Linked DNA regions of Homo sapiens: region 2 is linked to region 1. Evidence: fine-mapped expression QTL. A gene starts in region 1. The other region holds a variant in brackets. All regions are shown on one strand. Distances are from middle to middle.

Region 1 (12,118 bases):
ATTCCTGGCCTCAAGTGATCCGCCCGCCTCGGCCTCCCAAAGTGCTGGGATTACAAGCGTGAGCCACCGCACCCGGCCTCAATGTCCTTTTCCTTCGTCTTGTCACTTCTCCAAAAATTTGCTGCTATATGTTGAAGGTGCTATATAAGCAGGAGTTATATAAGCTATATAAGCCACCTCATTTCTCTTGGCATCTCCCATGTACACATAAGGTACACATGTTAATAAATTTGTTTTTCCCTTGTTAATTTTTTTTTTTTAGACGGAGCCTCGCTCTGTCGCCCAGGCTGGAGTGCAGTGGCACGATCTCGGCTCACTGCAAGCTCCGCCTCGCGGGTTCACGCCATTCTTCTGCCTCAGCCTCCCGAGTAGCTGGCACTACTACAGGCGCCCGCCACCACGCCTGGGTAATTTTTTTTTTTTTTTTTTTTTTGTATTTTTAGTAGAGACGGGGTTTCACCGTGTTAGCCAGGATGGTCTTGATCTCCTGACCTCGTGATCCGCCCGTCTCTGCCTCCCAAAGTGCTAGGATTACAGGCGTGAGCCACCGCGCCTGGCCTCTATTTTTTTTTTTTTTTTTTTTTTTTTTTTTTGAGACAGGGCCTCGCTCTGGGAGGAACCAAATTTGTAGATGTGAAGCCGCCACTTGTGTGCTCTCTGGGCCTGAGGACCCAGGATGATGCCCAGAGCTTGCTACATTCTGCCCCATGGTAGCTTGACCAACTACCCACAAAAAAGGGGTAGAGTGCAGCGGCACGATCTTAACTCACTGCAGCCTTGAACTCCTGGGATCAAGCCATCCTGCCACCTCAGCATCCTGAGTAGGTGGGACCACAGGTGCCTGCCACCACAATTGGCTAATTTCTTTTTATTTTTTATTTTTTGTAGAAATGGAGTCTTACCATGTTACCCAGGCTGGCCTTGAGCCCTGGGCTTAAGCAATCTTCCCACGTCGACCTTCCAAAGTGCTGGAATTACAGGCGTGAACCACCGCACCCGCCCTTCTTAATTCTTTCATTGCAAGGATCCATCACAGCTAAGAACTAAGAATAAAGGAAAAAGTATGTTTCCTCCCCTACACCCTGTTCCCATAAAGCAATCACTCAATTCCTCCCTCCTCCCAGCCCCTGGCAACCACTAATCTGCATTCTCTGCTGTCTCTCTGTATTTTTACCACTTCTTGATTTTTTTTTTTTTTTTTTTTTTTTGAGACAGAGTCTCACTCTGTCACCCAGACTGGAGTGCAGTGGCATGATCTCAGCTCACGGCAGCCTCCGCCTCCCAAGTTCAAGCAATTCTCCTGCCTCGGCCTCCCAAGTGGCTGAGAGTACAGGTGCGCACCACCACACCCGGCTAATTTTTGTATTTGTAGTAGAGATGGATTTTACCATGTTGGCCAGGCTGGTCTTGAACTCTTGACCTCAAGGGATCTGCCTGCCTCGACCTCCCAAAGTGCTGGGATTACAGGCATGAGCCACCATGCCCGACCTCCTTGATATTTCATACAAATGGAATCATACAATATGTGACCATTTGTGTCGGCCTCTTCCACCAAGCATAATAGGTTGTTTTGGTTTTTGCTTTTTGTTTTTGAGACAGGGTCTTGCTGTGTCACCAGGCTGGAGTGCGGTGGTGTGATCATAGCTCACTGCAGCCTTGAACTCCTGGGCCTGAGAGATCCTCCTGCCTCAGCCTCCACATTGCCTGGGACTACAGGTGCACGCCACCACATCTGGCCAATTTTTAAAATTTTTCTTTTGTAGAGATGCGGTCTCGCTATGTTCACCAGGCTGGTTTCGACCTCCTGGACTCAAGGGATCCTCCTGCCTTGGCCTCCCAAAGTGCTGGGATTACAGGTGTGAGCCACTGCGTGCAGCTGAGCATAATGGTGTTGAGGTTTGTCTAAGTTGCAGCATGTATCAGAAATTCATTCCACTTGCAGCTATATAACATTGCGCCATATGGATGGACCACATTTTGTTTATCCACGTATCAGCTGATGGTCATTTGGGCTGTTTCTGCCTTTTAGCGATCGTGAATAAGTACAGCTATAAACATTTGTGAATATGTAGTTGGAGTCCCTGGATTCCATTCCTTTGGGTCTATACCTAGAAGTGGGGTTGCTGGGTCATTTTGTAACTCTATGTTGAACTTTTTGAGTAATTGCCCAACTGTTTCCCACAGTAGCAGTACCATTTTCCATCCCCACCAGCATTACACAAAGGTTCCAATTTCGCCACTTCCTTGCAACATCCTTTTTTGATTATGATAGCCATCGTAGTAGGTGTGACGTGCCACCCCATTGTGGTTTTGTTTTGCCTTTTCCTGATGACTAATGATGTCAACGAGTCTGTTTGTTGGTTTGTTTGAATTTTTTTTTTTGAGACAGAGTGTCACTCTATTGCCTAGGCTGGAGTGCAGTGCTGATCTCAGCTCACTGCAACCTCCACCTCCCAGGTTCAAGCGATTCTCATGCCTCAGCCTCCCAAATAGCTGGGATTACAGCACACCCGCCACTGTGCCCGGCTAATTTTAGACTTTTAGTAGAGACGGGGTTTCGCCATGTTGGCCAGGCTGGTCTCCAACTCCTGATCTCAAGAAATCTGCCCACCTCGGCCTCCCAAAGTGCTGGGATTATAGGCGTGAGTCACCGCGTCTGGCCTCGATGTTAACCAGTTTTCTTTCACAGAATATTTCCTCTTGATTTCAACTCTTGTTACTCTTCTCCTGCATTGCTTTCCTCCTGTTGTTTAAAGTTACAGCAGATTCCTGCCTCAGGAACTTTGCATGTTCTGTTTCCTCTGCAGAAATGTTCTTGAGCCAGATACCAACGTGGCTCCCTCCTTCCCTAACTTCCTTTACTCGAATGTCATCCTCTCACGGGACCCACCCGATCACACCCTCCTGGACACTTCCTACCCATGTTACCTGCTGGTGACCTGTCTTGTTCATGGCTATATCCGCACAGCCTGGCAGAAAACAGAGAATCTGTTTTGTAAGTTTCACTGCCCTGTCCAAAGATCTCTTCTTGTGCTCCAAGGGAGCATGGAACACAAGGGGGCACAAGAAAGGCCTTGTCCACTCCTGTGATTTTCTTCCTCTCTGTCTCTCTCTCTTTCTGTTTTTGTTTTTAAACAGAGTCTCACTCGGTTGCCCAGGCTGGAGTGCAGTGGCATGATTTCGGCTCACTGCCATCTCCACCTCCCGGGTTCAAGCAATTCTCCTGCCTCAGCCTCCCAACCAGCTGGGATTACAGGCACCTGCTACCACGCCCCCACTAATTTTTGGAGTTTTTAATAGAAATAGGGTCTCACCATGTTGGCCAGGCTGGTCTCAAACTCCTGGGCTCAAGTGATCCACCCACTTCGGCCTCCCAAACTGCTGGGATTACAGGCATGGGCCACCATGCCCAGCCTCTTTTTTTTTTCTTCTTGTTTGTTTTTGAGACAGGGTCTCGCTCTGTTGCCCAGGCTGGAGTGCAGTGGCATGATCATAGCACCACTGCTGCATTGAACTCCTGGGTTCAAGTGATCCTCCATCCTCAGCCTCCCATAGCACTGGGATTACAGGTGTGTGCCACCACACCTGGCCCCAAGAGACTCTTTAACTTCCACATCCAGCTCCTTTTAAGACTTGGGTCCACTGGCTGAGCTCAGTGACTCACACCTGTAATCCCAATACTTTGGGAGGCCAAGGCAGGTGGATCACTTGAGGTCAGGAGTTGGAGACCAGCCTGGCCAATATGGTGAAACCCCGTCTCAAAAAAAAAAAAAAGACTTGGGTCCACGGGTCTTTGTGCACTCCCCTCTCCCCCAGTGGGGGGGTCACTCTTTTTTTTTTTTTTTAGAGTCAGAGTCTCGCTCTGTCACCCAGGCTGGAATACAGTGGTATGATCTTAGCTCACTGCAACCTCTGCCTCTGGGTTCAAGTGATTCTCCTGCCTCAGCCTCCCAAGTAGCTAGGATTACAGGCACCCACCACCACGCCCAGCTAATTTTTGTATTTTTAGTAGAGATGGGGTTTTGCCCTGTTGGCCAGGCTGGTCTCGAACTCCTGACCTTGGGGAATCCTCCCATCTCAGCCTCCTAAAGTGCTGGGATTACAGGCATGAGCCACTGCGCCCAGCCACGGGGTCACTGTTTTCACAGCAGAAAAATTGAAGCCAAGCCAGCTGCAGTGGCCTGTGCCTGTGGTCCCAGCTACTCAGGAGTCTGAGGCACGAGAATCGATTGAATCCAGGAGGTGGAGGTTGCAGTGAACCGAGATCACGCCACTGCACTCCAGCCTGGGCGTCAGCAAGACCCATCTCTAAAAAAGTAAAACAAAAAAAAATCCAAAGCCAAGGTCCAGACATGCAGAGGAAAGAGGTCACTGGCCGCAAAGCCTGCTGCTGCATGAATAAGCAGATCCCTCCTCTCAGGCCCAAGAGCCTTGGAACAGCGCAATGCATTTGCCCGAATGCTTCCTGTGTGCCGGGTCCCGCTCTAGGCAACAGAGATACAGCAGTGAGCTTTGCAGACACAGCCCAGCCCTCCCAGCGTCCCCCATCTGGCTAGGTCTGAGCTCGACCTTTGAAAAAGACACAGGAGCTGGCCTGGTGTTCACAGCTGGCCTTGGTGTTGCTAGGAGCTGGCCTGGCAGTCAAAGCAGGGCCCTGGTGTCCTCCTGCTGGACATAAACAATCTCACATGACGCCGACATCAGACAAGGCCACTCTGTGACCGCGGCAGAGCAAGACAAAACAAGCCTGCTCCATAATCATGTCTGAACACAGGCAAAACACGAACACTGTCCACACTATCAGAGTAACTGGACCTCCTCTGCTACTAGCTAATACCAGCAACGGCTGTTCCTTACCAAGCACAGCTTTAGTCTTCTGACTTCTTTCTTTCTTTCTTTCCTTCCTTCCTTCCCTCCTTCCCCTCCCTCCCTCCTTCCTTCCTTCTTCCTTCCTTTCCCTCCCTCCCTGCTTCCTTCCCTCCTTCTCTCCCTCCCTCCTTCCCTCCTTCTTTCCTTCTTCCTTCCTTTCCCTCCCTTCCTCCCTCCTTCCTTCCCTTCGTCCTTCCTTCCTTCCTTCCAGCTCCCAGCTTCCCTGGAGCTCTAAGGAGGCAGGATTTGCACAAAAAACAAAACCGTGCCCCCAAAACACCTAACAGAACTGCAGATCCCAAATCCCTCCCTCCCTCCCTCCCTCGCTCCCTCCCTTCCTTCCTTCCCTCCCTCTCTCCTTCCTTCCTTCTGACTTCTTCATACAGATGATTAAGATGCTGAATAATAGTTACTTCTCTCCCTAGCTGCTCTTTTGTTTTGTGTTGTTTCTGAGACAGAGTCTCACTCTGTCACCCAGGCTGGAGTGCAGTGGCGGAATCATAGCTCACTGCACCCTCACTGCAACCTCAATGTCCTGGGTTCAAGAAATCTTCCCACCTTAGCCTCCCAAGTAGCTGGGACTATAGGCACGCGCCACCGCACCTGGCTTTTTAATTTTTTATAGAGATAGGGTCTCACTGTGTTGCCCAGGCTGGTCTCAAACACCTGGGCTCAAGCAGTCCTCCCGCTTCAGCCTCTCAAAGTGATGGGATTACAGGCCTGAGGCACTGCACTCAGCCGCCCTTGCTTCTTTTTTTTTTTTTGAGACAGAGTTTTGCTCTGTGGCCCAAGCTGGAGTGCAGTGGCACGATCTCAGTTCACTGCAACCTCCACCACCTGGGTTCAAGCGATTCTCCTGCCTCAGCCTCCTGAGTAGCTGGGATTACAGGTGCCCGCCACCATGCCCAGCTAGTTTTTTTTTTCTTTGAGACAGAGTTTTGCTCTTGTCTCCCAGGCTGGAGTGCAATGGCGTGATCTCAGCTCACTGCAACCTCCGCCTCCTGGGTTCACGCAATTCTCCTGCCTCAGGCTCCTGAGTAGCTGGGAATACAGGTGCCCGCCACCACACCCGGCTATTTTTTATATTTTTAGTAGAGACAGGGTTTCACCATGTTGGCCAGGCTGGCCTCGAACTCCTGACCAAAGGAGATCCGCCTGCCTCAGCCTCCTGAGTAGCGGGGATTACAGGCGTGAGCCACCACGCCCGGCTAATTTTTGTATTTTCAGTAGAGACAGGGTTTCACCGTGTTCGCCAGGCTGGTCTCAAACTCCTGACCTCAAGTGATCCACCCACCTTGGCCTCCCAAAGTGCTGGGATTACAGGCGTGAGCCACCACACCAAGCCACAACAGCCCTTTTCTGGACGCTACTTTGGGAGGCTGAGATTACAAATGTGAGCCACCATGCCTCACCTGTGTGTTGTTTTTATTTGTTTTTATCTGCTCATCTCAAAAAAGAAAGTAAAATTTCCAACCAATAAATTCATCCCACCCAAATCCCCTACTTCCTTAAGCTGTGCCCCCAAAACACCGAGCAGAATTGCAAATCCCATAATAAGTGCTTTCTGGCCGGGCGTGGTGGCTCACGCCTATAATCCCAGCACTTCGGGAGACTGAAGCGAGCGGATCACCCGAGGTCGGCAATTCGAAACCAGCCTGACCAACATGGAAAAACCCCATCTCTACTAAAAATACAAAATTAGCTGGGTGTGGTGGCACATGCCTATAATCCCAGCTACTCGGGAGCCTGAGGCAGGAGAATCACTTGAAGCCGGAGGTTGCGATGAGCTGAGATCGTGCCACTGCACCCCAGCCTGGGCAACAAGAGCGAAACTCCATCTCAAATAAATAAATAAATAAATAAATAGCGAAAAAAAGTTCTTTCTAACACCTCCCTACTGAGACCGCCATAGTGCCCTATGACATGTATGAGCTCTCTCTCCCTCTCTCTTTCTTTCTCTCTCTCTCTCTGATGAATAATAAGCTTGAATGTGTTCAATCACAGGTACATTCCTGGTGGTCTTTGACTGGGGAAGGAGGGGTGACCGGCCCCTTTAAAGGGAGATCTGTGAGCCCTAGAATAATATCAAGAGGTGCAGTGATTCAGGGAAGTGGGTCCATTCTGTGTGGGGTGTGTAGAAGGTAGAGGGACAGAAAAACTTTAGAGGATGATAATAATAATGGACACCAGCAGCCTATTTAATCAAATCCTCAATACTGACACTGCTTTCTGAACTGGCTACCATCATTAGTCCCCTTTTGCAGATGACAAAACCTAAGTCCTAGCCAGGCATGGTGGCACACACCTGTGGACCCACCCACTTGGGAGGCTGAGGCGAGAGGATCGCTTGAGCCCAGGACTTCAAGTCCAGCCTGGGCAACATAGCGAGAGCTTACCTCAAAAACAAAACCAACCGAACAAAACCCCAGAGGCTCCAAAAAGTCAATTACTTGCCTGGGTTCCTGGAGCTCTAAGGAGGCAGTATTCGCACCAAGCCTGCCTGCTAATTTTCCTCCCGGCTGCCCCTAGAGGTGCTGAGTGGTCATTGTGACAGTATCATTACACAAAGGAAGCTCTTGGGGTCACAATGCGCAGGGCTGGACCACCCTTGGATGCAGCCTGGGAAGGAACATGAGGATCCTCTGAGAGACCAGGGACAGAGGGAGACCCAAAGATCTGGTCTGTAGCTAAGTGAATTTTCTAAAACTCATTGATTCACACGCCATCCCTTGAGGTAGGTGCACTGTCCTCGTCCCTGATGTACAGAGGTGAAAACTGAGGCTCATGGGAGCTTAATGACTTATTCCAAGATTACCTGGCTAGTAGTCTCAGTTGTTGGATTCTCTGATGACCCATTTTGGAGGTCATATTCAACTCTCAACTATTGCAGGGGGCAAATGATTCAAAAAGCAGCAAACTCAGCCAGGCGCGGTGGCTCATGCCTGTAATCCCAGCATTTTGGGAGGCCGAGGAGGGTGGATCACCTGAGGCTAGGAGTTCGAGACCAGGCTGGCCAACATGGCGAAACCCCGTCTCTACTAAAAATACAAAAATTGGCCGGGCGTGGTGGCGGACACCTACAGTCCCAGCTACTCTGGAGGCTGAGGTGGGAGAATCGCTTGAATCCAGGAGGAAGAGGTTGCAGTGAGCTGAGAAAAAAAAAAAAGCAACAAACTTACACACTGAAAAACTGTGGTTTCATTAAAACACACACACACACATACACACACACACACACACACACACACACACCCTTCATCCATGTTTTCTTTCTATTTTTGTGATGGGGTTTCGCTCTGTCACCCAGGCTGGAGTGCGGTAGCGTGGTCTCGGATCACTGCAACCTCTGCCACCCAGGTTCAAGCGGTTCTCCCGCCTCAGCCTTCTGAGTAGCTGGGATGACAGGTGCATACTACCATGCCCAGCTAATTTTTGTATTTTTTTCTTTTTTTTTTTTTTTTTTTTGAGACAGAGTTTCGCTCTTGTTGCCCAGGCTGGAGTGCAATGGCGCAATCTTGGCTCACCACGACTTCTGCCTCCTGGGTTCAAGCTATTCTCCTGCCTCAGCCTCTGGAGTAGCTGGGATTACAGGCATGCGCCACCACGCCTGACTAATTTTGTATTTTTAGTAGAGATGGGGTTTCTCCATGTTGGTCAGGCTGGTCTTGAACTCCGACCTCAGGAGATCTGCCCACCTCGGCCTCCCAAAGTGCTGGGATTATAGGCCTGAGCCACTGCACCCGTCTGATCCATGTTTTCTAAATAGGTAGAGGTAAGCAGGTTTTGTGGGTTGAAGTGATCTGGGAGGTCTTCCTGCAAGAGGTGAGCCTGAGAACTTGGAATGCTGGTCTCCAAGGGAGACAGAGAGGAGAGCATGGGAGACACTTGTGATCTAAGCAAAGGCAAGAAAGTCCCAGGTGACTGAGCAGAGGCGGAGGGTCAGGGGAGGCTTGGAGTCTGAAGCTGAAGGTCAGAGGAGAGAGCTAACTCTCAGAAGGTGTGAAGACAGGAAGAGATTGAGAATAGGCAGGACCTAGGACAACTGCAGAGCAGGGGAAAACCAGTAAGAAAGTGCGTGGCAGGCCGGGCACAGTGGCTCACACCTGTCATCCCAGCACTTTGGGAGGCCAAGGCAGACAGATCACTTGAGGTCAGGAGTTCGAGACCAGCCTGACCAATGTGGTGAAACCCCGTCTCTACCAAAAATACAAAACTTAGACGGGCATGGTGGCAGGTACCTGTTATCCCAGCTACTTGGGAGGCTGAGGCAGGAGAGTCAGTTGAATCCAGGAGGTGGAGGTTGCAGTGAGCTGAGATCGTGCCACTGTACTCCAGCCTGGGGGACAGAGTGAGACTCTGTCACAAAAAGAAAAGGAAAGAAAGAAAGAGAGAGAAGGTAGGGAAGTGAAAGGAGCGGAGGGGAGGGGGGAGGGGCGGGGGAGGGGGAGAGAAGGGAGAAAAAGTGTGGCAGAAACGGAGATGGCCAGTGGCTGGGGTGCAGGGCTGGAGTTAGGCAGAGGAACAAAAATGGGTCCCCCAGAGGGGAAGAAGGAGAAAACCGTGGCCTTGACAACTGACTGAGGGTGAGAAGACGCGGTTCTTGTATCAGACATACAGTAGAATGCAGTGGTTAATTCTCCAAGTTCTAGAATCAGAGTCGCCCTGGGTTCAAATCTCAAGCAAATGACCACCTCCCTGAGCCTCAATGTCTTTTGTGAAGCAGTGGTTAAAACCTACCCTTGGCCAGGCATGGTGGCTAACACCTGTAATCCCAGCACTTTGGGAGGCTGAGGCAGAAGGGTTGCTTGAGCCCAGGAGTTTGAGACCAGCCTGAGCAACATAGCCAGACCCCTGTCTCTAAAAAAAAAAATAGAAAGAATTAGCCATGCATGGTGGTGCACACCTATAGTCCCAGATGCTCAGAAGACTGAGGTGAGAGGACCGTTTGAGCCCAAGAGGTTGAGCCCACCACACTTGTCTAATTTGTGTGTGTGTGTGTGTGTGTGTGTGTGTGTGTGGAGACGGGGTCCCACTATATTGCCCAGGCTGGTCCTGAACTCCCGGGCTCAAGCAGTCCTCTTGCTCTGACCTCTCACTGTGCCTGGATACAGGTGTGAGTCACAGTACCCAGCTATTACCTTCTAACCTACTCTTCAATTTTTGTTGTTATATTTTTTATTATTGTCTGTCATCTCCCGCCCCATTATCAATTCCACAAAGGCAGGGATCTAGGTCTATTTTGTGAACTAATGTTAGTTCCCCACCCCTGCTGGCCTCCAGGCCTAGAGTAGGGACAGAAATCATTTATGTGGTGCCTACTGTGTGCCAGGCCTACAGTAGGCACCACATGAAAGATTTTTTTTTATGTTTTGAGACGGAGTCTCGCTCTGTCGTCCAGGCTGGAGTGCAATGGCACAATCTCGGCTCACTGCAACCTCTGCCTCCCGGGTTCAAGCGATTCTCCTGCCTCAGCCTCCCGAGTAGCTGGGACTACGGGCGCCCACCACCACTCCAGGCTAATTTTTTTTAAAAATTATTTTTAGTACAGACAGGGTTTCACCACGTTGGCCAGGCTGGTCTCGAACTCCTGACCTCAGGTGATCCACCGGCCTCGGCCTCCCAAAGTGCTGAGATTACAGGCGTGAGCCCCCGCGCCCAGCCATGATTATTTCTGTCTCTGCTCTCGCTGGGGGAAGGCACAGAAGCTGTACCAGTTTCCCGTGATGTCCCCAGCCTCCAGCTCAGTGCTTGGCGAACAGAAAGGAGTCAAAGGCAGCAGAAAGGAGTCAAAAGCAGGAGTCAAAGGCAAGTGCCCCAATGGGCACTTGCTCAGTCCCTCATCTCCACCCTCTCGCAGGTGGCTGGTGTCCCGCGATGGCCACAGGCGCCCTCCTGCCGTGCTCGCGCCCGTGCCCGATGTCCCGGCTGGACTTCCTCAAGGCCTCGCACTTCTCGCTGGGGCCTGACCTGCGGCTGCACGAGGGCACCATGCGCACCACGTCGCACCGGGACTTTGCCTACCCGGCTGCCACCCGGGAGCCGCCGAGCCTGCAGCCGCCGCCCGCGCTGCTTTTCCCAATGGACCCGCGCTGGGACCGGGAAGAGCGCGTGTCGGAGGCGCACCGCGCGTTCCCGCCGCCATCCACGCCGCCGTGGGAGCTGCTGCAAGCGCAGGCGCGGGAACGCACGCTCGCCATGCAGGCCGGCAACCTGCACCTGCACGAGGACGCGCACGCCGGGATCGGCCTCTCCAACGCGCACGCCGCCTACGGCTGGCCCGAGCTGCCGGCGCGCACCCGAGAGCGGATCCGCGGCGCGCGCCTCATCTTCGACCGCGACTCCCTGCCTCCTGGCGACCGCGACAAGTTGCGCATCCCGCCCACCACGCACCAGGCGCTCTTTCCACCCCACGACGCGCGCCCGCAGCCTCGCGCGCCCAGTTGCCACCTCGGTGAGCGCGCGCCCGGGCTGAGTGGGCGATTTGCTTCACATTGTGGTTCTCAAACAGGGGCAAGGGCTCTTCATTCCCCTTCCCCCAGGGAACATTTGGCAATGTCTGGAAACGCTTTTGGTGGTCAGGACTTGGGGGGTGGCCGGGCGCGGTGGCTCAAGCCTGTAACCTCAGCACTTTGGGAGTTGGAGGCGGGGGGATCGCTTGAGGTCAAGAGTTCGAGACCAGCCTGGCCAATATGGAGGAACCCCGCCTCTACTAAAATACAAAAATTAGTAGGGCGCGGTGAAGGGTGCCTGTAATCCCAGCTACTTGAGAGGCTGAGGCAGGAGAATCGCTTGAACCCAGGGGGCAGAGGTTGTGGTGAGCTGAGATTGTGCCACCGCATTCCAACCTGGGAGACAGAGCAAGGCTCCGTCTCAAAAAAAGGAAAGAAAGAAAGGAAGAAGAGAAAGAAGAAAGAGAGAGAGAGAGAGAGGAAGGAAGGAAGAAGGAAGGAAGGAAAACAAGACAGAGAGGAAGGGAGGGAGGGAGGGAGGAAGACTTGGGGGGTGGCGAGGCCACCCGCGGTGGCTCACGCCTGTAATCCCAGTGCTTTGGGAGGCCTAGGCAGGAGGATGTCTTGAGGCCAGAATTGGAGACCAGCCTGGGCAACATAGCGAGACCCATCTCTACAAAATAAAAATTTTATTATTTTTTTATTATATATATATGTGTATATATTTTTTTGAGAAAGTGTCTCTGTCACCCAGGCTGGAGTGCAGTGGCATGATCTCGGCTCACACAGACTAAATCTGC
Region 2 (14,696 bases), 20 kb before region 1:
CTGGAAGGTGCAACTGGTCAGGCTCTAGCGGCTCGCTGGGAGCCAGGAAATTCGGGACACCTGTGCCATCCTCTGGAGAGGAAAACCAGAAGGCACAGCTGGCATCGTGGCTGAGGCCACCCCACACAGGGCCGTGTTTGGTCTCCAGGCCCAAAACTGAGATGATCCACCCTGCATCTTCTCCACCTCAACCCTCAAAACAGTGGGATGGGGACCAGGAGCCTTAGAAAGGGACACGGGCAAGAAGGCAGAGATCCCTGGCCACGTGGGATCAGCACAGCCGGGACAGGGACAGGTGCAGGCGCCTCTGCTCATTGTCCCAGTTCCACAGAGCCGTTCCACAGAGTGGGACACGGAGCCCAGAGCAGCCCCAGTGTTTCCACGGAGGATGTCCAGGAGCTCCTCTGGGGGACACCTCCCTGGGGGACAACCAGGGATGTTCTGGGATGTTCTCTGAAGATTAAGGGTGTGTCCCGTGGTCACTAGGGCCTGTGCTATTTCCACAGGAGGCTCAGCCTCCTCTCCAGATGCCGGGTGACTCTGCAGGTCCTTCCGCAGGGAGGTTGGGGCCGTTCTCCCTGAATCTGGGGCTTAGCATCTGAGCAGCTCAGGTCACGGGATCCAGGCCGCCCGTGGGAAGTGTCAGGTGGGGGTGGCCAGGCCCCTCTGCTCTCGGAGGCTGCCCTGGCGGGTGGGGACAGCTGGCCAGCCTGGAGCTGGCCCAAATACCTTCTCTCTTCCAGCGTCCTTCGACCTGAAGCAGCAGCTGCTGCTCAACAAGCTCATGGGGAAAGATGAGAGCACCTCACGGAACCGCCGCTCGCTGAGCCCTATCCTGCCCGGCAGACACAGTCCTGCGCCCCCACCAGGTGAGCCCCCACCCCCTGACATGAGCCCAGTCCCAGGGCAGCGGGGCTGCGGCACCACCCGGCGACTGCTCAGTCTGAACCCTCTCTCTGTTCCAGACCCTGGCTTCCCCGCCCCGAGCCCACCGCCAGCTGACAGCCCCTCCGAGGGCTTCTCTCTCAAGGCCGGGGGCACAGCCCTCCTGCCCGGGCCCCCAGCTCCCTCGCCACTGCCGGCCACACCACTCAGCGCCAAGGAGGACGCCAGCAAAGAAGACGTCATCTTCTTCTAAAAGGGCCGTGACTCAAGGTGCAAGGCCCCTCCCTGCCCTGCCCACCCTTCCTGCTCTCTGGGGACCCCCATGGGGTCACCATGCCCACCCAGCTGTCCCCTCCTCTTCCCTAGCAAACCACTGATGACCGCCTGGCAGGGGCCAGCCTGTCGGTGCTCTGGGCCTTGCAGCTGTTTCTGTAGGGTTAGCGGTGGTGCCGGGGTCACTTTCTGAATCTCTTTTTTTTTTTTTCAAAAAGGAAAGTTTTTAATGGAAAGTTGAGCCAGAACTAAACCAGGGAGCTGTCTGAAATCATAGCACCCCATCCGGGTGGCGGGGAGATCAACTCCGAGCTGTTTTTCCGAGGCAGTGAGGAACGGTGCCGGCTCTGCACGGAGCTGAGGACAGGACAGACCTTGCTTTGAGAAGGAGCTGCCGGCCGGGGCCACGCTCCACAGCCGCCGCGCGACAGTGGAGCCAAGGGTTAGGGCACCAGGAGGGGCCAGGTGGCGTCGGCAGCATCTGTCCCCAGAATCAGGCAGAATCCACTTCCCAAACAGAGCCCCACGCAGGTTCACCATGAACCTCAGGGTCAGGGAATGAGCCAGGCACGGGGGCATGGGCAGAGAGGGCCACGGGGCAGGGCCCACTGAGGGAACATCAGTGGCCCTCCAGTCAGGTTCTGTGGGTTTGGAAGCCCATCGTGAAAGGGGCTGACCTTTGCCCCTTTTTACTTGGCATTGGTTTTGAAACCAGCTGTTTCCCAAACTCTGCTTCCCAAGGGCAACCGTTGCTGTTCACACGCTCAGCCTGTCTGGGGGAGCGGGCCTCTAGCTTCAGCCAGGGCGGGTACACACCCTGGGCACAGGGTCCTCAGCCCCCGGGAAATGAGCTCCCAGGGCTGGCGTCCCACCTTCCAGGTGGGGGCTGGCACATCACAGACTGTCGAGAGCGCCATGTCCCAGGGCATGCAGAGGATGCACCTAGAGACGTTGCAGCAAGTGGACAAGTGGCCGCTGTGCGGGCCCCTCGCTTGTAGTGAGCTGTTGCAGCTTACGGTCCGTTCCCTGGAGGGGTGGAGGAAGGAGGTGTTGGGCAGCATCAAAGGTGCTGGGACATCCCAGGGTGGTGAGATCCATCCACGATCCAGCTCCGGTGGAGAAAGGGCCCATGTCAAGCCTTGTTCTGCACCCCAAGCATTGGTGGTAGGACTGGGTCCTGGCTGATCGTCCTTGTTCCCAGTGGGGTACATGTGAGCCCCTGCCAGGGCCAAGTCCTTCTCCCGAACCCAGGGTCCTGGGAACTGCAGATCCCGGGGGGATTCAGCCCTTCTCCCACTGTGCTGGCAGAGGCACTCCTGTGACGCTGAATACAGTGAACAGGGACATTCCCGCCACTCGGGGACAGATGGGCACAAGGGAGGGGAAACTCCATCAGGAAGTGCTCCCCTGGGCAGAGGCGCCCACTGGGTGCTGTGGGCTCAGGAGGGGGCGGGGCAGGAGCTGGTGCCAACCGGGAACCAGAGCCCCACAGCCATACAGCCCATTGGTGACAAGGTCCTGAGAACACAGTGGCCAGGTGTCCCCAGGCTCCTGGCCCCTCCGACGACCTCAACTCTGCCCAGCCCGGTCCCTGGCCATCAGCGACGCTGTCCGCCCCCCGTCAGATCCCATGTGTGCCATGTTTATCATCAGTGTTTTGTATTTTTGTACTGAGTATCGGAGCACTTTACAGAAGCTGACTGTACATTCCTGTTCTGTTGTGAAGAGAACATTCCCAGACCCTGGCACCCTCCTGAGCCGGCGTGTGCCGGTCCAGCCCTCCGAGATGCCACAATTCCTTGGATGGGGGAGAAGTTCAAGGAATTTCTGCTCGGCCACGCGGTGGGAACCCCGCGTCCCCGCCATGTGGCAGAGGGGTCTCAGTCGTGCTAGGCATCGGGCGGCAGCGCCGACAGCCCTTCCCTCGCCAGTGCCCCTCGGCCACTCCTGGGTTGGAGCCCGATTTTATTTGTAAAGTTGACAGTCGAGCAAATGTTCCTATTTTCGTGGGATCTGCACACGTCTTTGTCAGTTGTGGTCATGATCTTAGTCACCTGCTAATTATTTTTACAATGATTACAACATTTCCTCACTGCGGGATATTTCTGACCCGCTTTAGAACTTAAGACCTGATTCTAGCAATAAACGTGTCCGAGATGAGCGGTGACTGGCGTGCACGTTCTTGGAGGTTTTATTTGAGGATTTTCTTCTGCCCAAACGTTGCTGCAGGAGTAGCAGGTTCTGTTGGGGGCTCCCCATGGCTCCTGCCCCTCAGCTCGCTCACCTGCCCTCCGTGTCCTGCTTAACGCTCTGAAGACCCCTTCAGGTCCAGTCCCCAGGAGTTGTTGGGGGTTTTGTTTTTGTTTTTGTTTCTGTTTTTTTGGTTTGTTTGTTTTTTTGAGACAGAGTCTTGCTCTGTCGCCCAGGCTGGAGACCAGTGGCAGGTTCTCAGCTCACTGCAACCTCTGCCTCCCGGGTTCAAGCACTTCTCCTGCCTCAGCCTCCTGAGTAGCTGGGATTACAGGTGTGCACCACCACGCCCAGCTAATTTTTGTATTTTTTTAGTAGACATGGGGTTTCGCCATGTTGGCGAGGCTGGTCTCGAACTCCTGACCTCAAGTGATCTGCCCGCCTCAGCCTCCCAAAGTGCTGGGATTACGGGCACAGGGCAGGAGTGGGGCGTGGAGGTGCCTGTGGAGGGTCCTGCCCACCGGGTACACTTCAGGCTTTGGTGGCGCCTCCACGAAAATCTTTTTGCTTTTAATCCACAATAACCGCAAAGGCTGGAACTTTCACTTCCTCCATCTGGGGTGAGAGGCAGCTTGGCCATGAGTATGAAATCATCATTTCCACCTGGTCTGAGTCCCGGTCCAGTGAGGCGAGGACCCTGCTGTTTCAACAGAGGGTTTCCCATCACAAGGGGACTAGGTGTAAAGTCGATCACTAGCTCACTAGGAAGCGCAAAAAGGGAACTCTCAGGCAGCACTGTCCACCAGGAAGATGATGCAGGCCACGTGTGGAATTTTTCATTTTTAGTAGCCATATTAAAAAAGTAAAAGGAGGGCCGGGCACAGTGGCTCATCCCTGTAATCCCAGCATTTTGGGGAGGCGGGGGCTGAGGCAGGAGGATAGCTTGAGCCCAGGAGTTCAAGACCAGCCTGGGCAACATAGTGAAACCCCTTCACAGAAAAATTAAAAAATTAGCCAGGTTGGCCGGGCGCAGTGGCTCACGCGTGTAATCCCAGCACTTTGGGAAGCCAAGGTGGGCAGATTACGAGGTCAGGAGATCGAGACCATCCTGGCTAACAAGGTGAAACCCCGTCTCAACTAAAAATACAGAAATTAGCCGGGCGTGGTGGCGGGCGCCTGTAGTCCCAGCTACTCGGGAGGCTGAAGCAGGAGAATGGCGTGAACCCAGGAGGCGGAGCTTGCGGTGAGCCGAGATTGCGCCACTGCACTCAGCCTAGGCAATAGAGCGAGACTCCGTCTCAAAAAAAAAAAAAAAAAAAAAAAAATTAGCCAGGTATGGTGGCGTGCACCTGTAATCCCAGCTACACAGGAGGCCAAGGCAGGAGGATTGCTTGAGCCTAGGGGTTCAAAGTTGCAGTGAGCTATGATCGTGCCACTGCACTCCAGCCTAGGCAACATGGTGAGACCCTGTCTATAAGAGCTTAAAAAAAAAAAAGGAAATTTGGGGGATAGAAAAAAGAAATGAAATTTAAAAAAAAAAGAAAAAAGGGCTGGACGCAGTGGCTCACGCCTGTAATCCCAGCACTTTGGGAGGCCGAGGCAGGCAGATCACCTGAGGTCCGGAGTTTGAGACCAGCCTGGCCAACATGTTGAAACCCCATCTCTACTAAAAACACAAAAATCAGCCGGGCGTGGTGGCAAACACCTGTAATTCCAGCTACTCTGGGGGCTGAGGCAAGAGAAGCGGTTGAACCCGGAGGCGGAGGTTGCAGTGAGCCGAGACTGCACGATTGCACTCCAGCCTGGGGGACAACAGTGAGACTTCGTCTCAAAAAAAAAAGAAAAAAAGGATGTAATTAATTTATTACATTTTTATTTATTTTTTTGACATGGAGTCTTGCTCTGTCACCCAGGCTGGAGTGCAGTGGCACGCTATCTTGACTCACTGCAACCGCCGCCTCCCAGGTTCAAGTAATTATCCTGCCTCAGCCTCCCGAGTAGCTGGGATTACAGGCACCCACCATCATGCCCGGCTAATTTTTGCATTTTTGTAGAGATGGGGTTTCACCATGTTGACCAGGCTGGTCTTGAACTCCTAATCTCAGGTGATCTGCCTGTCTCGGCCTCCCAAAGTGCTGGGATTACAGGCGTGAGCCACCGC[G/A]CCTGGTCTATTTTTTCTTCATTGTGGTCAAATGCACACAACATAAAACTGGCCAGTTGCTATTCTCCTGATGGTGGGCATTGGAGTGTGTGTGTGTGTGTGTGTGTGTGTGTGTCTCCCCCCACCCTCTGATTTGCTCCACCCCAACCCCAGCCGTCCTCTGACCTCTGCCTAGCTGACCCCTCCACTGGGATGCCCCCAGCCTTCCTCAGCACTCCTTATGGGCCCTGGGGGGCTTGGAGGCACCCTAAAATGAGATGTTCTGCAAAGAGGGCCTGTAGTGGCTGGGCACGGTGGCCCACGCCTATAATCCCAGCACTTTGGGAGGCCGAAGTGGGTGAATCACTTGAGCACAGGAGTTCAAGACCAGCCTGGGCAACGTGGTGAAACCCCGTTTCTACTAAAAATACAAAATTAGCCAGGCATGCTTGGGCGTGCCTGTAGTCCCAGCTACTCGGGAGGCTGAGGCAGAGAATTGCTTGAACCCAGGAGGCGGAGGTTGCAGTGAGCCGAGATCGCGCCACCGCACTCCAGCCTAGGCGACAGAGTGACTCTGTCTCAAAAAAGAGGGCCCGTAGTCTTTAAGGTTCACAAAGGGGTCTGTTCCCAGCCCCTAAAAGGTTGAAAACCACTGGACCAGAATGGGCAACCCAGGGACAGAGTAGTGGTCACCAAGCCTGGGGGCTGCGGGTGGGTAACAGCTGAGGGGTGTGAGGTTTCTCTCTGGGGTGATGGAATGTTCTAAGGTTGACTGTGGCTCTGCTTGCACGACTGTGAATGTACTAAAAGCCACTGAACTGTCCCCCTTCTGTGGATAAATTTTATATGTGAATTATATTTCCATAAAACTGTTTAAACACACACACACACACACAACCACACACACACACAACCACTGGACCAGCTGAGAGAGTGGGAGAGCGGCCTCCCTTTCTGGAAGCATCCAACCTGTCTGCTCTGTGCCTGGGCTCCACATGGTCAGTGTCCAAGGCCTTCCCAGCCCAGGCTGTATCCCTGAAGGTGGCTTGCTTTTCCTCCTGGCACCTGTGACCAGGTGGTCATGTGGCTTCCCCACACAGAGGCGCTGCTCCAAGGGCCCCACTGGTATGAGCTAGTAAGTAGTTGGGTCTCCAGGTAGACAATGAGATGCCCTAATCATGCAGGTGCTGCTAGGGGCTGGGAAGGAGGCCTCTGCTGAGGGCCAGGACAGGCCTGCACCCCCGACAAGGGAAAGAAGGGGGAAACCCACCAAGCCTGGCCCACTCGTGAGTCCTGGGCAGAAGGAGCCCCCACAGATGGGGTCTCCCGCACCCGTGTGACCCTGAGCAGTCCCCGGCCTCCCAGCTGCTCAGAGCCACCTGGTATCTTCCTTGTAAAAAACAAACCACAAATGTACTCTGGGAGGCCGAGGCAGGCAGCTCACTTGAAGCCAGGAGTTCAAGACCAGCCTGGGCAATGTGGTGAGACCCTGTCTCTACAAAAAGTTTAAAAATTAGCTGGATTTGGTGATAAACACCTGTAGTTCCTGCTATTCAGGAGGCTGAGGTAGGAGGATCCCTTGAGCCCAGGAGTTTGAGGCTGCAGTGAGGCTATGATCGCACCACTGCACTCCAGCCTGGGTGACAGAGATCCTGGGTCAAAAAGATAAAAATCAAGGCAGTGCAATTGATATCACATGAGGCCCAAGGGCGCACACACACTGGCTGTTGTGTGTTCCTGGGCCAGGCTGTGCAACAATGTCTGCCAGAGGCCACATGTGCACAGACTCTGAAGGGTTGTTCTCAGCCAGCAGACTAAGCAGTGCCCTCATCCCATCCCACCACACATTGGCTGAGGTGGGAGCCCCAAGTATCTTCAGCGATGCCAGTGTGTGTTGCCCAGTCTCAGCCTGGAGCCCTTAAAATGCTCACAGTGGCCCTGCGTCGGCAGCACAGTGGCATGAGGCCACGCCCTCGGGTGGCCTGATGAGAGGTGGCGCCTCTGGCCTGTGTGCCCAGGACTCTGGGGAGTAGAGAACAGCCCTCAATGGCTGGAGGCCACTTGGGGTCCGTGGGCAACGCTTGCTCAAAGATGGAGAGGACCCACCGGGCTGAGGGCATTCCTGAAGGTGGGCTGGGGTAGTGTGGTTTCCAACTTTGGGTCCGTCCTGTGGAGGGTAAGGGGCCAGGAGCCAGCAGTGTAATAACCTTCACCCCTGAGCCAGGCGCCAGCACCACAATGTTTAATTGATTCCCGTTCCAGCTTTCTCAAGGCACGACAGGCCCCCTCTTCCTCATCTTGATTTGGATACAAGACGCCAGCTGGCAGGCAGGAGGTGCTGCTGAAGCCCTGCACGGCCCCTGAAAACTGTCACGGCTCAGGAGCTCCAGGCTGAGGCCTGGGGGACCTCGCATCAGTCCCTCCACCCACCCTGCCCATGGGTTTCACCACAGGCAGCTCCATGAGAGCCCCGGCCCCTGCCCTGGCGGCTTCTGCTTTGCGGGAAGGGCCCTCCGTGGGCTCTGGCTGTGTCCCTGTGCTCTTCCGGCAGTGTCAGGGGGTAGTGGCCTCGGCCTGGCCGCCGGCCCGGGCCGCCTGGTACATGCTGAGGATTGAGGAGATGGTGCCCATGAGGCCCACTAGCCACGGCGGGAAGCGGCCGGCCCACAGCACGCCCCGGGGCAGCCAGTGCACGGCGTTGGCCAGGTCGGCCAGGTTGCTGAGAAGTGACAGCGCCTCCGACTGCATCTGCGCCTCCATGGCCCTCCGCTTGCCCCGGGGCAGCGGGCTGTGGGGCAGAGAGGGGCCGCTTACACTCACGCTCACACCTGCCTGCCCTTCCCAAGCCCCTGAATGCCCTGTGTGGCCTGGCAGCCCTGAGCCCCTGCCTGTGAGTGGGAGGAGCTGGCAGGACTGAGGTGGCCTCCCTGACCATCCACAGAGACTGAGTCCCCATCACCCCCCCGACCCAAGCACGAACAGGGCAGGAACCCGGGTCCAAGTCCTCAAATCCACACCTCACTCCTCGTCCTGAACACCCAGAGATGGGGATTCCTTGTGAAAAACAGAAAGCACAAATGCACTTTGGGAGGTGTGGAGGGAAGGGGGAACCCCCAGGAGCGTGGCCTGTGCCTGCCCGGCCTTTCTTTATCAGGATGACACAGTGACGATAAGCCTGGCCAATATGGCGAGACCCCATCTCCACCAAAAAATAAAAAACAAAATTAGCCAGGCGTGCTGGCCCGTGCCTGTAGTCCCAGCTACTCGGGAAGCTGAAACAGGAGGATCAGTTGAGCCCAGGAGGCAGAGGCTGCAGTGAGCCAAGATGGCACCACTGTGCTCCAGCCTGGGCAACAGAGCAAGACCCTGTCTCAAAAAACAAAAAGAAAAAGCAACAGTAACAATGGCCATGGCCTTCGGGAAATTGATCATTCTCTCCTGCTGGGGGCGCAGCCATGAAGGCTCAGCCCTGGAGTCCCCGCTCAAGCAAGCCTCAGTTTCTCCATCTGTAAAAGGTACCGCCACCCACCAGAGGCTGTGATGACTCCCCCATGACCTGAGCACAACAGTCCCCAGCATGGGCCTGCACAGGGGTGGCTGCGAGCCGGGATCCCACGCCTGCTGGAGGGAGTGGGCCTCCCTGCTGGGTGATCACGGGCTCCTACCTGGTGAAGGGCGCCGTGGGGCTCCGCAGCCTCTGTCTCAGTTTCAGCAGCATCCACAGGGACCTGCAGCACCAGAGCCCGAGGGAGGATGCCCCGGCGGGGAGCAGGAGGGTTAGCTCCACAACGCTGGCCCCGGACATACAGTCTGGGACAGGTGCTGCATCTCGGATAAACGGCCTGCCCTCTCCCTGCCCCCACAGTCCCACACCCTCCTGGCTGTGCCTCATGCTCCCGGGGACTCATCTCTAACACGGCCCCGTCCCACCCGGGACATCGTCCTGCACTTCTGACGTGGCCATCCAGGGCCTGGCCCAGCCTCTGCAAACCACTGGCAAGTGCTCAAAGGAACATCAAGCCCCGTGAGGTGTTCACAGCCTGGCAGGGAGTCCTACACAGAAAAGGATGCCAAGAGGCCCGCAGTTGGACAGGCGTGGGGACGCCGTTTCCCCTCCGGGCCTCAGCTGCCTTGTCTGCTCTGTGTGGAAAGGTCCAAATCAGTGCCATGCCAGCACCCCCTGCACACACACCCCGGACATTGGCTGGACCTGTCTGGATGATCCCCTGGGCCCCCAGGGCTGGCATCTGCAGGCTGAGGAAGGGGCTACCCAGTGGGCAGCCTCTGTGCTCCCAGCAGGCTCTGCAGCCGTGCATGGCACCCACCCGGGCCAGTCCACCAGGCACCTGCACTCTCCAGCCTCGGCCGTGGGGTGTGCCGGGTTGTGACTGTGACAGAATGGGCAGGGCCTGGTCACAACTCCTCTGGCCACTGGGTACCCAGGGTGCAGGATGCAGGATAGCGCCAGTGGCACAGCAGGTGGGAGCCTCCTGGGGGGCTAGGGAAAAACACTGATTCCTGGGCTCCCCAGACCCACAGAATCAGAAGCTCTGGGCCAAGCGCGATGGCTCACACCTGTAATCCCGGGACTTTGGGAGGCCAAGGCCGGTGGATCACCTGAGGTCAGGAGTTCAAGACTAGCCTGGCCAACATGGTGAACCCCTGTCTCTACTAAAAATACAAAAATTAGCTGGGGGTGGTGGTGGGCGCCTGTAATCCCAGGTACTCGGGAGGCTGAGGCAGGAGAATCACTTGACCCCGGGAGGTGGAGGTTGCAGTAAGCCAAGATCGCACCACTGCACTCCAGCCTGGGCGACAGAGGAAGACTGTGTCTCAAGAAAAGAATCAGAAGCCCTGGGCGCCGGACCCAGGCATCTCCATTTAGCAACCTCCTGGCTGATGCTCCGGCAGCCCTGGGCCTTAGGGCAGATGTCTGGTCATGATGAGCACACATGGAATGCTCTCCACCCACTCCCCCTGCTCACTGCAAATCCAGAGAAATGATGAAAAACCACATGCCCGAAACAAGAATGCCGCAGCAGGCGGGGCACACAGGACTTCGATGGCCGTGAAACAATTCCATTTGATTCTGCAAGGGGGGACACGTGTCAGTGTCCAAACCCATAGGATGCCCAAAACCTAGCGTGAACCCTAACGTGAGCTACTCACTTGGGGTGATGATGGATCCATGGAGGGGCATCAGTTGTAACAAATGCACCATGTGGATGCTGCCAGTAGTCGGGGAGGCTGTGTGTGGGGGTATATGGGAGCTCTCTGAACGTTATGCTCAATTTTGCCATGAGCCTAAAACTGCTCTAAAAAAATAAAGTCTGGGCCGGGAGTGGTGGCTCACGCCTATAATTCCAGCACTTAGGGAGGCCAAGGCAAGTGGATCACCTGAGCCCAGGAGTTGGAGACCAGTCTGGGCAACATGGCAAAACCGTGTCTCTACAGAAAAAAAATTACAAAAATTAGCCAGATATGGTGGCACAGCCTGTGGTCCCAGCCACTCAGAAGGCTGAGGTGGGAGTATTGTTTGAGCCCAAGGGGCGGAGGTTGCAGTGGGTCAAGATTGAGCCACTGCTTTTCAGCCTGTCTCAAAAAAAAAAAAAAAGTTTATTTAAGCAAAAAAGAAAGGAACCAAGGCTGCCCCTAAAATACAAACCAGAGGTCACGAGGCACCCAGAGGAAGGTGGCGGAAGAGAGGCTGTGAGCCAAGGCCCCCCTCTGACCGGAGCCCCAGGAACATCCAGGCTGGGCCCAGGCACCCTCCCCCAGGTCTCCCAGCACACAGGGAAGGCCAGCAGCACAGACACCGCTGCCTCCAGGGGCCATGGCCATGAAACATGACCCTTTTGAGACAGCCAAAATGCACAGGCAGGGTATTAGGTCAAAGGCTGGAAAAGAACCACCCAAGCTTGAACAGTGGGAGTCTGGGTTGGATTGTGGGTAATTCGAATCTTCTACTCTGAGGTTTATCTATTTTCCAGATTGTCTACGGTAAGCATGTAATTAGGACATCTGTGCCGGGGGGAAAACAAGAACTACTGAGAGTCAGAGCCTCGACCAGGGACAAGCAAAGCTTCCCCCAGAAAAAGGACACAGCCTGCCTGAGGCTGGGGGCAGCCGCACCTCACCCCAGCGATCTAAGAGCCCTTCACAGCCACTGAAACATGGAGACCAGGGGGCCCAGCTCCTGCTGGTGTTTTCAGGGGCAGGGGATTCTGACTCAGCGCATTTGCAAAGAGGAAAATGTTTGGGAGGAAACCATTACTAGAAAGTTCTAGAAACTATATGGTTTTTTGGAGGCACAGAACTAGTCAGGAAACTGCTGACTGTTTTCTCTGGGGTGTCGGCTGACAGCAACGCCAGCAAGACTCAGGGACCCGGGTAAAGGCCACTCCGCTGGCTGCTTCTCACAGGCCCTGGAGTTACTTCTTCTTTCTAAGTGTGGTCAGCAGAGTCATGACCCCTTCTAAAATGTCCATGTCCTGAACCTGTCAACATGTTCACCTCCAAGGCAAAGGATATTTTGCCGATGGGATTAAGCTAAGGATTTTTTCTTTTTTTGACACGGAATCTTGCTCTGTCGCCAGGCTGGAGTGCAGGGGTGTGATCTCGGCTCACTGCAACCTCCACCTCCCCAAATTCAAGCAATCCTCCTGCCTCAGCCTCCCAAGTAGCTGGGATTACAAGTGTGCACCACCAAGCCCAGCTAATTTTTTGTATTTTTAGTAGAGACAGGGTTTCACCATGTTGGCCAGGCTGGTCTAGAACTCCTGGGCTCAAGTGATCCACCCGCCTTGGCCTCCCAAAGTGCTGGGATTACAGGCATGAGCCACCACGCCCAACCTAAGCTAAGGATCTTGAGATGGGGTATTACCCTGGATCATCCAGGTGGTCCCCATGTCATCATAGGGGTCCTTATAGGAGGGAGGAAGGAGGATGAGGGTCAGGGAAGGAGGTGTGACGCTGAAAGCAGAGGTCATGCTTGGAAGATGAAGGAAGGGGCCATGAGCCAAGGAATGTGGGTGGCCTCCAGAAGCTGGAAAATCCAAGGAAACGGACCTCCCCCTGGGACCTCCAGAAGGCATCAGCGCCTGCTGACACTAGCCCAGGGAGTGTTCTGACTTCCAGCCTTCAGAATCCTAAGATAAGAAGTTTCTGTTGCCCAGCACTACAGAGTTGTGCTAATTTGTTCCGACAGTTATTCTAAACAAATACACCCACAAAAGGAAGAAACAACAAAACCTCCAAGGAAAACTCTAAGAGGCAAAGACCCACCGCAGTCTGAAGCCTGTGCTGTTGCTGGGGCCGCTGCCACTTTGCTAAGGAGGCACCGCCCAGGGACCTTGGGTGCTCCCTTCTGGCCCATGCCACTTACCTGGCAACCCCCAGGAGCAGAGAGAGGGCCCACAGGGTTGTACTCAGCGTCCACCACCGAGAAGAGTCCACGTGGAGGACCCGGGCATCAGCCGCCCAGGCCACGTGCTCACAGGGGTAGTAGAGCTGGTCAGCCAGGTTCCCTAGGACGGAGACACAGCGGACAAAGGCGTCCTCCTCCTGCAGGACCAGGAGCAGAGGGGGCCTAGGGTCAGACTTACCCACTGCCCATTTTAGCACCGTAGCCATGCCAGGTGGCAGAGAGCTATTTCCTGACCCCAGTCCCTGGGCCGTGTCCAGGCCTGGCAGGCCCCGCGGGAGAAAGGCTCTGGGGCTGGGGTCCCCGCACAGGCCTGATTTCTGTGTCTCGGCAGCACGGTGCTCAGTGCCCCTTGGAGGGAGGCTCTCAACGCAGCTGTGCAGTGCAGTCCTCTGCAGAGCTTCAAAAACCCCATGCCCAATGCCAGCCGTGAGGATTCTGCCTCACTCAGCCTGGGGCAGGCCCCAGTACCGGGAATTTTCACAGGGAATTTTCACATTCCCAGGGGATTCCCAGGCCAAGTTGGGAGCCCTGTGTCAGAGCCTTCCTTCCCAAAGGCTTCCAGTTCCTGCACAGGTGGGGACCTCTGTTGCCAGACTCTATGCAGGGAGCATGAGGTGGCCCGCAGCGAACCCTGACCAGGCTGAGATGGTGTGCCAACCCTTGGGCCACCGCACGCCCACTGCTGACCACGCGCCAGGCACAGTGCGGCAAGGCTCATGGCCTCCCTCAACTCCGAGCAAGTTACAGACGGCCACGCTGAGGCTCTCAGGGAAAGCCGCTGGCCCCCAGTTCCGGCAGGGATGGGCCTCCAGGCCCTCGAATTGCAATGCACACGCGGGCTCTCGGTCCTGCACAGTGCCCATACCCTCTGCCCCAAGTTCTTAATCACACGGCCTAGAGCCAGCGAGGCAGGACCAGTTGAGGCTGTAGAAACCAGCGCTGAAGCCTGGTTTCTGGGACTGGAGCCCCGCAGCCAACCGGGGGACCCGCCCCCTTGGGACCCCACCCCCCTTGGGACCCCGCCCACCGTGACCCCGCCCCATCGGAGCCCCGCCCCCTCTACCTTTATCCTCCTTGTTACCTGCCACACCCTTCCCCTCCTCTCTGACTTCCCAGGAAGCTCCTCCCCGCCCCCACCGCTGATTCCAGATGCTGCTCTCCTTCTTTCTGGCCAGTCATGATCCTACCTCCCTCCGGGCTCTGAACCTCACTCCAGCTTCCCTCATCTGCCTGGCGCGTCCTGGCACATTGCCCACCTCCCTGAGGATGGCGGACCCCGCCCCAATGTGCTCATTCCGCCCGGATTTCCTGAGAAGCGGCAGGGTCCAGGCTAGACTCTGGGGAGGGGCAGAGGCTCACCAGGGCAGGGAGGAACGCAGACATATAAACCGGGAACCCAACAAACAGGGCTCTTGTTCTGGCCAAGGGACACTCGAGGTGCAAGGGCCTCCACCCCTTGCCTGAGGGCTCTTCCACAGAGGGCATAGAGGAACGAGGGGTCTCAGGGATGCACCAGAGCGCTGTCCTAATCAGACACGGAGGAGGAGGATGCTATAGGTGTCAAAACAGGAAGGCGGCCCACAGCAACACTTATGATATAGGATGATCAGGCCAAGGACACGTGGTGCTGAACACGGTGGGGTTGGGATTTCGGGGCGGGGAGCACCTGAGTAGCAAGTGGCTCAGAGAGGTGATCCCTGGGAGGACAGAGAGAACAGACAGGGCAGCCCAGGGAGGGGCAGGACGCTGAGAGGCTGGCCCACGCAGCCTCTGAGATCATCC

Evidence for each region.
Region 2: its variant is fine-mapped to the expression of SAXO5 in spleen (GTEx, PIP 0.95).

What each region holds. Positions count from the first base shown.
Region 1 is chr19:7,490,080-7,502,197 of GRCh38, forward strand. It overlaps SAXO5 (stabilizer of axonemal microtubules 5), which reads left to right and starts at 7,469. Exons shown (of 9, transcript NM_198534.3): 1 at 7,469-7,603; 2 at 10,727-11,320. The coding sequence starts at 10,744. It also overlaps a transcript of PEX11G not described here. RefSeq lists a silencer at 2,664-2,958.
Region 2 is chr19:7,469,161-7,483,856 of GRCh38, forward strand. It overlaps ARHGEF18 (Rho/Rac guanine nucleotide exchange factor 18), which reads left to right. Exons shown (of 29, transcript NM_001367823.1): 28 at 744-869; 29 at 966-3,318. The coding sequence ends at 1,138. PEX11G (peroxisomal biogenesis factor 11 gamma) reads right to left here. Exons shown (of 5, transcript NM_080662.4): 3 at 12,873-13,051; 4 at 9,154-9,216; 5 at 7,715-8,276. The coding sequence ends at 8,042. Among named protein-coding and RNA genes, the nearest start is that of PEX11G, 13 kb to the right of the region's middle. RefSeq lists a silencer at 3,995-4,044 and enhancers at 7,686-8,321, 14,545-14,696. The variant G/A (reference allele first, on the strand shown) is at 5,510.